Linked DNA regions of Homo sapiens. The protein of the gene in region 1 purifies or fractionates together with the protein of each later gene. This does not show direct contact. Each region holds a gene or a part of one and is shown on either strand. Other genes may lie near its edges.

What was found.
Region 2: the proteins of DCAF4L2 (region 1) and PYGL purify together in Homo sapiens (affinity purification with mass spectrometry; 3 studies listed by BioGRID and IntAct, with this or other methods). This does not show direct contact.

What each region holds. Positions count from the first base shown.
Region 1 is NC_000008.11:87,870,562-87,875,653, forward strand, and holds DCAF4L2 (DDB1- and CUL4-associated factor 4-like protein 2), read right to left. Parts: upstream 3,455-5,092; 5' UTR 3,411-3,454; coding exon 2,223-3,410; 3' UTR 186-2,222; downstream 1-185.
Region 2 is NC_000014.9:50,906,153-50,910,815, reverse strand, and holds part of PYGL (glycogen phosphorylase, liver form), read left to right. Parts: intron 1-713; coding exon 714-921; intron 922-1,860; coding exon 1,861-1,995; intron 1,996-2,478; coding exon 2,479-2,545; intron 2,546-4,663. UniProt on the Homo sapiens protein: Allosteric enzyme that catalyzes the rate-limiting step in glycogen catabolism, the phosphorolytic cleavage of glycogen to produce glucose-1-phosphate, and plays a central role in maintaining cellular and organismal glucose homeostasis.

The DNA of each region.
Region 1 (5,092 bases):
CTTAATAGCTATTTTATTTTTATTACTAAGTAATATTCCATCATATAAGTATGTATACTAGTTTGTTTATCCATCACTTTTTGAGGAACATCTTGTTTGTTTCTGGTTTTTGGCATTTATAAATAAAGCTGCTATAAACAAAAATTGTACTAGAATAATGAATGAAAACAATACATAATCATTGCTTTATTTGCACTTATTTTATTTGCAAGTGAGGGTAAACAGATTCGCAAGTTACGTAGTCATTACATTTTCTTTTGTCAACTGCCCATAGCTGCTTTTGGACTTTTTTAAAAAAAATTACATCCGCAGCTAGTTCTTATTGAATGCTTACAATGTAAAAGGGACAATGTATACATCCTTTAAACCAATATCTACTTTATGATTTAGTTTTATTATCTAAGACATTTTACAAAGAAATAACAAGTACAGCTTACACAGTTTCCCCTGTCACACATCAAGTATCAAAAACTAATTTAACTGATTTCAAAAATCTATGCACCTAACCACTCTTTTGTATCTTCTCTATTGACCTATTCCTCTATCAATATGTAATATTACATTAACCTCATTTATGTCCTGACATCACCTCTAATCTACAGAATGGACATTTTAATAGTTGCCTAAAACTCAGCATTATTCTCTTCACCTAAAATTTTTTCACCTCAAATCCTCCCCATTTTAGTAAATGACACCAACCATCCACCAGTCCTAAAGTTAACAAAAAAGCTGCAATCTTTATGCTGTCTTTCACTTTCTAGATTACTCTCATCAGCAAATCTTACTAATACTACCTTCGAATGATCTTCCAATGCAATCATTTCTGATTTTTCTGATTATTTCTACTTCTCATAGTCAGGTCCAAGCCACAATCATTCCCTTTCCTGACCAACCTACAACAGTGTACTGTTTTCATATTTTTATTTTTGAGGTATTATATAAAGTGTGAAGTGTATAGACATACAAAATATGTATGTATCAAGGATCAAGAAAAAGAAAACAGCATTTCTAAAGTTTCCCCGTGTTACTTTCCAAACAATATCCTAAAAATAAAAGGGAAAAAAACAAACAATATCCTTTCTTCCTTCCACAGAGATACCTACTATTCAAACTGTAATCACCATAGATAAGTTTTTAGTGCTTTGGAACTTTAGAACTGAATCAGTTTGTACTCATTTCTACCTACATTTACAATCAACATGTTGAGATTAATCCACAGTTTCATATAGCAATTGTGCCTTATTTTATATTATGCTTTATCCAATTGTATGACTACAGCACAAATTATTTATCAATTTTAGCATATTGTAAAGTGAGATCATTTCCAGGCTTTGGCTATTAAGAAGTAGCCACTAACTTTATTACACGTTTTTTTGTTTTTTGTTTTTTTTGTCTTTTCTAGCTTATTGTTGGTAGAAAAACAGGCTAACACTTTGAATAAACATCTCACAAACTGCTGCTCCTAGATTACAAAAAGTCAAAGCCAATTATCTTTGACACTGAGCCCTTGAATCCTGACATTCAAGTCACAATAATAGAAACCGGAGCTGCTGTACCTTACATTCTGGAAGATGCCTCAACAAAAGCACGTTAAGGACTGTTTAAAACTTCTATTATTTAAAAAGATCCACCTTTCCTCCCATTGCCTATGGAAAATAATAAAAGGAGAATCTCAGAGATCTGCTATTGAGTTTGAGAAGGCCAAGTTTAATGATTCCAAAATGTAGCCTTAAAAACTTCTGGAGAGACTCAGATAAATGACCTCCCCCTCCTCTCCTCTCCCACTGGCCTCTTCAAGTACAGATGATGCATGTATTTCCGGAACCCAGGTAGGACTAGTCAAACAGTCTCATGCTTCTCTAAAAGGCTTCTGGTGTAAGCAGTTTTAATTTATTTTAGTTTTTGCCAATCTTCAGTCCTTAGAAAAGTGTTTTTTTGTTAAAAAAAAAAAAAAAGGGGGGGATAACTATTCTAAGGTATTCAACAAGAAAAGGAAATAGTTATCTTTTATGAAAAGGACTTTCAAGCTCTCTCAGCCCAGTTTAACTGAAACAACTTTACAGAACTATCTTCACATAAAACAGCACCTTACCCCTAGCAGCCGGATGGATGGGATCTACAAACACCGAACATCTCTTAAAATGCGCTCATAGAAACGGTAATACGATGCTCTTTACTTCTTTAAGTCAAATCCACGTTCCTCCGGGCTGCATCCTGAAGAATTAACCGTAGGAGAAACAATAAAGGTCCTCCCGGACAGCCATGAGCAGCCCTGGTGCTCCTCGGAAGCCCCCGAGGCGAGAAGAGAAGGCCACACTGGGAATGTCGTTCTCCGAGGCGGGGTATGGGGAGGGTATGGTTGTGAGCAGGTGGCCATGACGGAGGCTCCAGATTCTCGTGTAGCAGTCCTGGCCCACGGCCGCCACGACTCCTTCTTCTTCGTTCACATGCACGGGTAGGTAGGCGGAGTTATTCACATGACCTTCGTACTGTGTTACACATTTAGTGGCCCTCAAGTCCCACAGCTTGATAGTTCCAGTCATGTCTGATGACACCAGGAATTGGCCATCTTGGAGGATTTGCAGAGAAGTCACTGCTGAATCATGGGACAGGCAAATGGCCTTCCACCCGCTGCCTTGATTTCCACAGCGCAGATCAATGCCAAAGATCTCCCCAGAGCGACAGCCATTAAACAGCAAAGGAGTCATGATTGCAAACTGCTGGGCCAAGACATCACTGCTAGTCCCAAATGACTGCTGGTGTCCCGTCACCACGTTGGTCAACAGGACCTGCTGAGACAAGCCTGTACTGAAAGAGTGATACGCGTGGATGCTCAGGGACCAGGCACAGGACCAGGCATCAGGGATCTGGAAACTGCAAAGCATGCCAGGCCGACGCATTCCTGGGAAGCTACCTATGAACAGCGACGCTGGGAGCAGCACGGCACAGCTTGGAGTATCTGCAAGTCCCACGAAGCACAGCAGAAGGTGGGAATCCAAGTGATTCAGTGAGGCCCAGCACATAGAATTCACCTTCCGATTAGGGACGTAGAGGGTTTTGTGCGGGTATACCCGGAGCTCAGGGGTCGTCAGGCCTCGCATGGTGATGATGCCGTACTTGGAGCCTCCAGCTTCGACTTGGTTCACTGTGAAGAGCTGGTCAGTGTTGGTATTCGCCAGTATGCGGTTAAATCGGTCGCTTGCCAAAGAGGAGGGATCCCAGCTATGAATCTGGACCTTTTTCCTCTGCATGCAGCTTACACGCAGCTCGCGAGCTATACGGCAATAGTTGGCGAATCTGAGGAAACCTAGCTGGTTCTTTCGTAGCATGGAAGGTGCATTGAGTCCCACTCTGACTGTCTTTTTCTGCTTGTCTGCTTCCTCGAGCAGTCGCGGTCTTTTGCTCTCCATTTCGTTCGGCGGATGTTCTCCCTCCTGAGGGGAAGTTCTGTCCCGGGAGTAAGAGGAAGTACCGCTTCTTTACAAGCACGACTTGGCACGGAAGAACTTCCCGCTGCGCCTGCGCCTGTGCGTATGAGGTCGACCCGGACGAGATTCTTCGTCGCCTTGGCCCAAATCCCGAATGCTCTGAGGTGCCCTGACATAACTCTCGTTAGAATCGCGTGATCTGAAACAAGAGTTCCGCTGCTTCTCTCGAGTTTTCCCCTACTCAGACAGCTGCTTTTATTCATTTCTATTCCTGTTTAGAGATTCTTTTCCGACCCCTCTTACACACGTCATAATAGCTGTATGCATACATTTCTCTTATTTACTAAGAAGTGAAATTGGCCCAGCACTTTGGGAGGCCGAGGTGGGCGTATTACGAGGTCAGGAGTTCGAGACCAGCCTGGCCAATATGGTGAAACCCTGTCTCTACTAAAAATACAAAAATGAGCCGGGCATGGTGGCGCGCGCCTGTAGTCCCAGCTACTCGGGAGGCTAAAGCAGAAGAATCGCTTGAACGCAGGAGGCGAAGGTTGCAGTGAGCCGAGATAGCCCCACTGCACTTCAGCCTGGGCGACAAAGGGAGACACCGTCTCAAAAAAAAAAAATTTGAAAGTGGAGGGTTATTAGGTAGACATATATAGCTTAAGTAGATATTGACAAACCAATTACACTCTTGTCAAAATATGGCTTAAGTAGATATTGACAAACCAATTACACTCTTGTCAAAAGTGTATATATATCCTTGCCAATTCTTGTTGGTCAGTTTACATTTTAGATATAAATAATTTATAATTGTTTTTGTCTTCCTGTTGAAAGATTGCCATTATTATTATAAAATATTCCTTTTTAACTTTTATTTATTGATTGACTTTATTTTATTTTTGTGAGATGGAGTCGCGCTCTGTCGCCCAGGCTGGACTGCAGTGGCGTGATCTCGATTCACTGCAAGCTCCGCCTCCCGGGTTCACGCCATTCTCCTGCCTCAGCCTCCTGAGTAGCTGAGACTACAGGCGCCTGCCACCATGCCTGGCTAATTTTTTGTATTTTTAGTAGGGATGGAGTTTCACCATGTTAGCCAGGATGGTCTTGATATCCTGACCTTGTGATCCACCTGCCTTGGCCTCCCAAAGTGCTGGGATTACAGGCATGAGCCACTGCGCCCGACCAACTTTTATTTATTTTATTTTATTTTATTTTATTTTATTTTACTTTATTTTATTTTTTGAGACGGAGTCTCGCTCGTCACCCAGGCTGGAGTGCAATGGCTCTATCTCAGCTCGCTGCAAGCTCCACCTCCCGGGTTCAGGCCATTCTCCTGCCTCAGCCTCCCAAGTAGCTGGGACTACAGGCTCCGCCACCATGCCCGGCTAATTTTTTTGTATTTTTGGTAGAGATGGGGTTTCACCATCTTAGCCAGAATGGTCTCGATCTCCTGATCTGGTGATACACCCGCCTCAGCCTCCCAAAGTGCTGGGATTACAGGCTTGAGCCACCGCGCCTGGCCCAACTTTAATTTTTTTAAATCTGTGTTCTCTGATATTAAAGTATCCTTATCCTTAAACCCTTCTTGTCTAATATTTATATATGCAACCAAGATTTCTGGTTGATAGTGTTTGCTGTACCTTTTCTCACCTTTTACTTTCAAC
Region 2 (4,663 bases), on another chromosome or scaffold:
TTACGTGTGGCTTATTTCCCTGCAGGAAAAGTGGAAGGAAGGAGGTGAGAAGTAGAAGGAATGCAGACAATCCAGTCTCCTCAGGTTGCCAAAGAGGAGTCCTGGAGGGACACTCTGAATGTTATGGATCAAGAGAGAGAAGTTCAGCCTGGGCAGCATAGGGAGACCCCATACATACAAAAATTTTAAAAAATTAGCTGGACATGGTGGTGCTCGCTTGTAATTGCAGCTACTTGGGAGGCTGGGGCAGGAAGATTGCTTGAGCCTAGGAGGTCAAGGCTGCAGAGAGCTGTAATCGCACCACTGCACTCCAGCCTGGGTGACAGAGAGAGACCCTGTACCAAAAAAGAGAAAGAAAAAAAGAGAAATTTCAATATATTTTATAAAGTAGAAGAAATAAAAATAAAACTGTAACAAAAATTGGAAGGAATAAAAGGAAGAAGAGAAATGTAGTATCAATGTTTGTCGCAGTCAATAGATACTCTTCAAAGTTTATAGCTCGAGAAAGAAATACAAGCATATAAAATGGACAAAAGTGGTTGCCTGAGTCAAGGGGAAAGAGTGTGATCTGCCTTCTAGACCATTTGAATGTTTATCTTAATGTGCATGTATTACTTTAATTATCAAAACAGCCCAACTTAATAAATGCTTCAATACAATACAAGCAGATCTAGACAGACAAAATTACTAATTTTAACTTACCTTTCTTGCAGTCATTCCAGCCACAGATCTGTCAGAGCAGATTTCCACTGCAGGCACCGAAGCCTCGGGGACAGGCAATATGAAGTTCATGCTAAATGGGGCCCTAACTATCGGGACCATGGATGGGGCCAATGTGGAAATGGCAGAAGAAGCTGGGGAAGAGAACCTGTTCATCTTTGGCATGAGGATAGATGATGTGGCTGCTTTGGACAAGAAAGGGTAAGAGAATAGCTTCTCTTTGCTAGGCAGGACTGCCCCTCCCCCCTAGAAGGTATGTGACCTCAGAGGGCTTCCTGCCCACACCGATATCCCACTGAAATTGGATCACATAAGAGGTGGCAGCAGAACATCTCCCACGATGAGGCAGGAGAGCCTCCTGGCCACAGATTAATATTATTAAACCCAGCAAATAAAAGTACAGACACATGGAGGAGTTGCTATTTGTTATCGGCCATTGCAGAGCTGGCCTCAAAGAGCTATTTTTCCTCCGTATGTATGATTTTTACTTTGATCAAAAGATGAACCAGTTTCTAGTTGGAAGGGTTGCCTATAATTTAAATCATGATCTAGTGCTCCTTTAAGATATCAAAGAAATGCACTAAAATGTGATAGAGAATAGATACGGGTGTACAGAAGTAATTGGAAACATTTATTTTCACTTCATATCTGGATGGGTTTATTAACCTGAGTTCAAGCACAAAATAAAGAGTACTGCCCAAAGAAGTAACATTTGGAGGATGTTGAATATACTTCCTGACCCTTGGAAGTCAGTTTCACTCAGTAGCAACAACTTTTGAGAATCTGTGGATCCAAAAAGCAACTGATCTACTTAATACAATGTTCATTTAAAGCCATAAAGTCTGCTTTGAAATGGACCTTGCTGTATTCTACCACATCAGACTCTTGATGTTTGACTAGAGTTTTCATTATCTATTGTTCTTAGTGTCTTTGGTTATAAGGAATCAAATTTACAGGAAGAAAAACTTACAGATCTAGTTAAAAGTTATATATACTCATGGTGAAATCTATAATGAAGTCTTTGAATGCTAGTATTTCTGAATGTATTTTTTCACAGTGAATGCAGTGTCTAGTGTGTTGTTAATCACACAACACAATAACAGAGCCTTTTTTTATCACCCACCCACCCCTACCCCACAGGTACGAGGCAAAAGAATACTATGAGGCACTTCCAGAGCTGAAGCTGGTCATTGATCAAATTGACAATGGCTTTTTTTCTCCCAAGCAGCCTGACCTCTTCAAAGATATCATCAACATGCTATTTTATCATGACAGGTGAGTTCCCATAAGAAGATGGTGCTATTTGGATCATGAAAGGGGGACAAGAAAATCTTAAACCAACCAACTCTAAAACCAACAAGAAAATCTTAAACCAATCTTAAACCAACTTAAACCCACTCATGTAGATTAGCATAGATTAGCGTGATCTGCTCAGGTAGTTTAGGCTTGGGGAAAAAGTTAGATATTCTCCACCAGCGATGCCAGTAAGGTTTAAGAATAACACACACAAATCTGGTTCTCTTTTTCTCCTTCCACTGATATTCCCAACTTCCAAATGCATCCCAGTGATGACATTCTCACATGTGAGAACCATAAGAAGGTTGAGGGCTGGTTAAAAGTCTTACAAACAGAAATATGAATTTGGTAAACCAGCCATGCCTGATATTAAGCAAAAGATGATTTTACATGGAATTTTAGCATATATCTATTAATGAAGATTTTGACTGTTTTTTTCCTCTTCCACTCACAAAATAAAAGGTTTAAAGTCTTTGCAGACTACGAAGCCTATGTCAAGTGTCAAGATAAAGTGAGTCAGCTGTACATGGTGAGTAAATTGCCAAGATTTATAAAGAAAACCAGTTTACTATGATTCATTAAAATGTGGGTTTTTTAATTAAATGCAAATATCAGATCCCCATGTAATATCAGATCCCCATTAAGCAATCAAAAAAAAAACAACAAAAACAAACAAACAACCACAACAAAAAAAAAAACCTTGTCTTTTCCCAAGTTCAGGCCAAGGTTGAGATTTGACATTTCAGCAGGAGTTGTAATTTTTTTTTTTTTTTTTTTTTGAGACAGATCTCGCTCTGTCACTCAGACGGGAGTGCAGCGGCGTGATCCTGACTCACTGCAACCTTCACCTCTCGGCCTCCCAAGTAGCTGGGATTATAGGCACGTGCCACCACACTTAGCTAATTTTTGTATTTTTAGTGGAGATGGAGTTTCACCGTGTTGGCCAGGCTGGTCTAGAACTCCTGACCTCAGGTGATTCACCCGCCTCTGCCTCCCAAAGTGCTGGGATTACAGGTGTGAGCCACCATGCCCAGCCAGTTGTAAATTTTTTAATATCCAAGTTTTTTAAAAGTCACAAATAATTCAATATTTTTTGAGCACCCACTCTGTAGCAGACATGTCCTGGAAGCTAAGGAAATAAAGCCTCAGAGGGGCATTAGGCGTCTTTTTTATGCCGGGCACTGTGCTGGCACTGAGAACACAGCATGAGCAAAGTTGAGGTCTCTCCCTCCCTCCCCTCCCTCAAGGAGCCTGTTTGAACATCGAGATTCTTAACCAGAGGTACACATCAGAATCACCAAGGTAGCTTCATCATAGTACAGATGCCAGCCCCCGCACTGAGAGATTCTTTCCCAGTAATGGGTGGGGTCATCAGTATTTGAGAAACCTGCCATGATGATTCTAAGGCTAAAACATGGTTTTTTAAGATAAGGACTGACCCCTATTCTCTGAAAATTGCAAAATAGGTACCTCTTCTGGACTTCTCATGGAGGGGGCTGTATCAATAGAATATAAATTCGTAGAAAGAGAAAGGTGTTCATAATTGAATTTTTAAAAAAAGAAAGAAGAATAAGGAAGACAATACTATACTGAGGGGAAAAAAAAGGGATGGGTAGAGCCATGTGAATAAGCCTCTGCATGCAAAGTTATACGCTTTATCAAACAACTCTCTAGCTGTGTTTTGTAAATATGTAAAAAGGTTGATCATCTCTGATAGGAGAGACTTTTAGTGAATTTCAGATACCCTAGAGGAATGGATACTGGAGGGGGCTAGCTCTGTGCCAAGACTCCAGGGTGGGTTTTACTAACATTTCTTTCTACTCCTTTCCCAAGGCAGATAAAAGGGTAGTTCCTACTGTCATCCTAAATGTCCCACTGGGATTTTAAAAAGGATCATTCAACGCCTGTGCTGCTTTACAGCCCTTATCTTCTAATAGAATAATGGCCAGTCCCCCAGTGGCATATAGACCAGAATAAGTTCAAGTTAATGGCTACAAACAAGCAGGGCAGTGCTAGAGCTAAGCTCAGGGGCTCACTACCTGCTTCCTGTACATTGGAGAGAAAAGCCATATACAGGCCGCAAGAATGCAAAGACACAGGGAAGAGAACGGCCACCTCAAGACAGATCAATAAAACAGCACAGGAAAGAAAAATATGAACAAGGGCAAGGACAAATGTGAATGTCTCCTCTGTTAAAATTATGGCCCAAATCCAAACGATGCTCATCTAGAAACCCAGCATTTGATTCGGTCTTTCTTGTTCATTAGTGCTAATTGCAGCTTTTTACTCTTAACAATGATTGTATTGTTGAGACTTAGTAAACATGACCCATATGACTGGGAAGTCTATTCATTATCCATTTAAATAGTTAAAGAAAATGAAGAGAGAAAGCTTTTATCCTCCTCTTATTACAGGAAGCTTCCAAAGTCTGAATAAACAAATTTCAGATGCTGTTTTGCTGTACCTTAAGGAATGATGGTAGTTTTAGTCTTTCTCGTAAGCATTTATAATGCATTGATAACATTTTTGAATAATGTTCTGTTCACTTCCAATACACTTTTAGAGTTCCTTACAAAATTAAGAGGCTATAAAATAAATTCCTTCTTATCATATTCTTTTATATAAAAATTATGAGATTTTGATATAT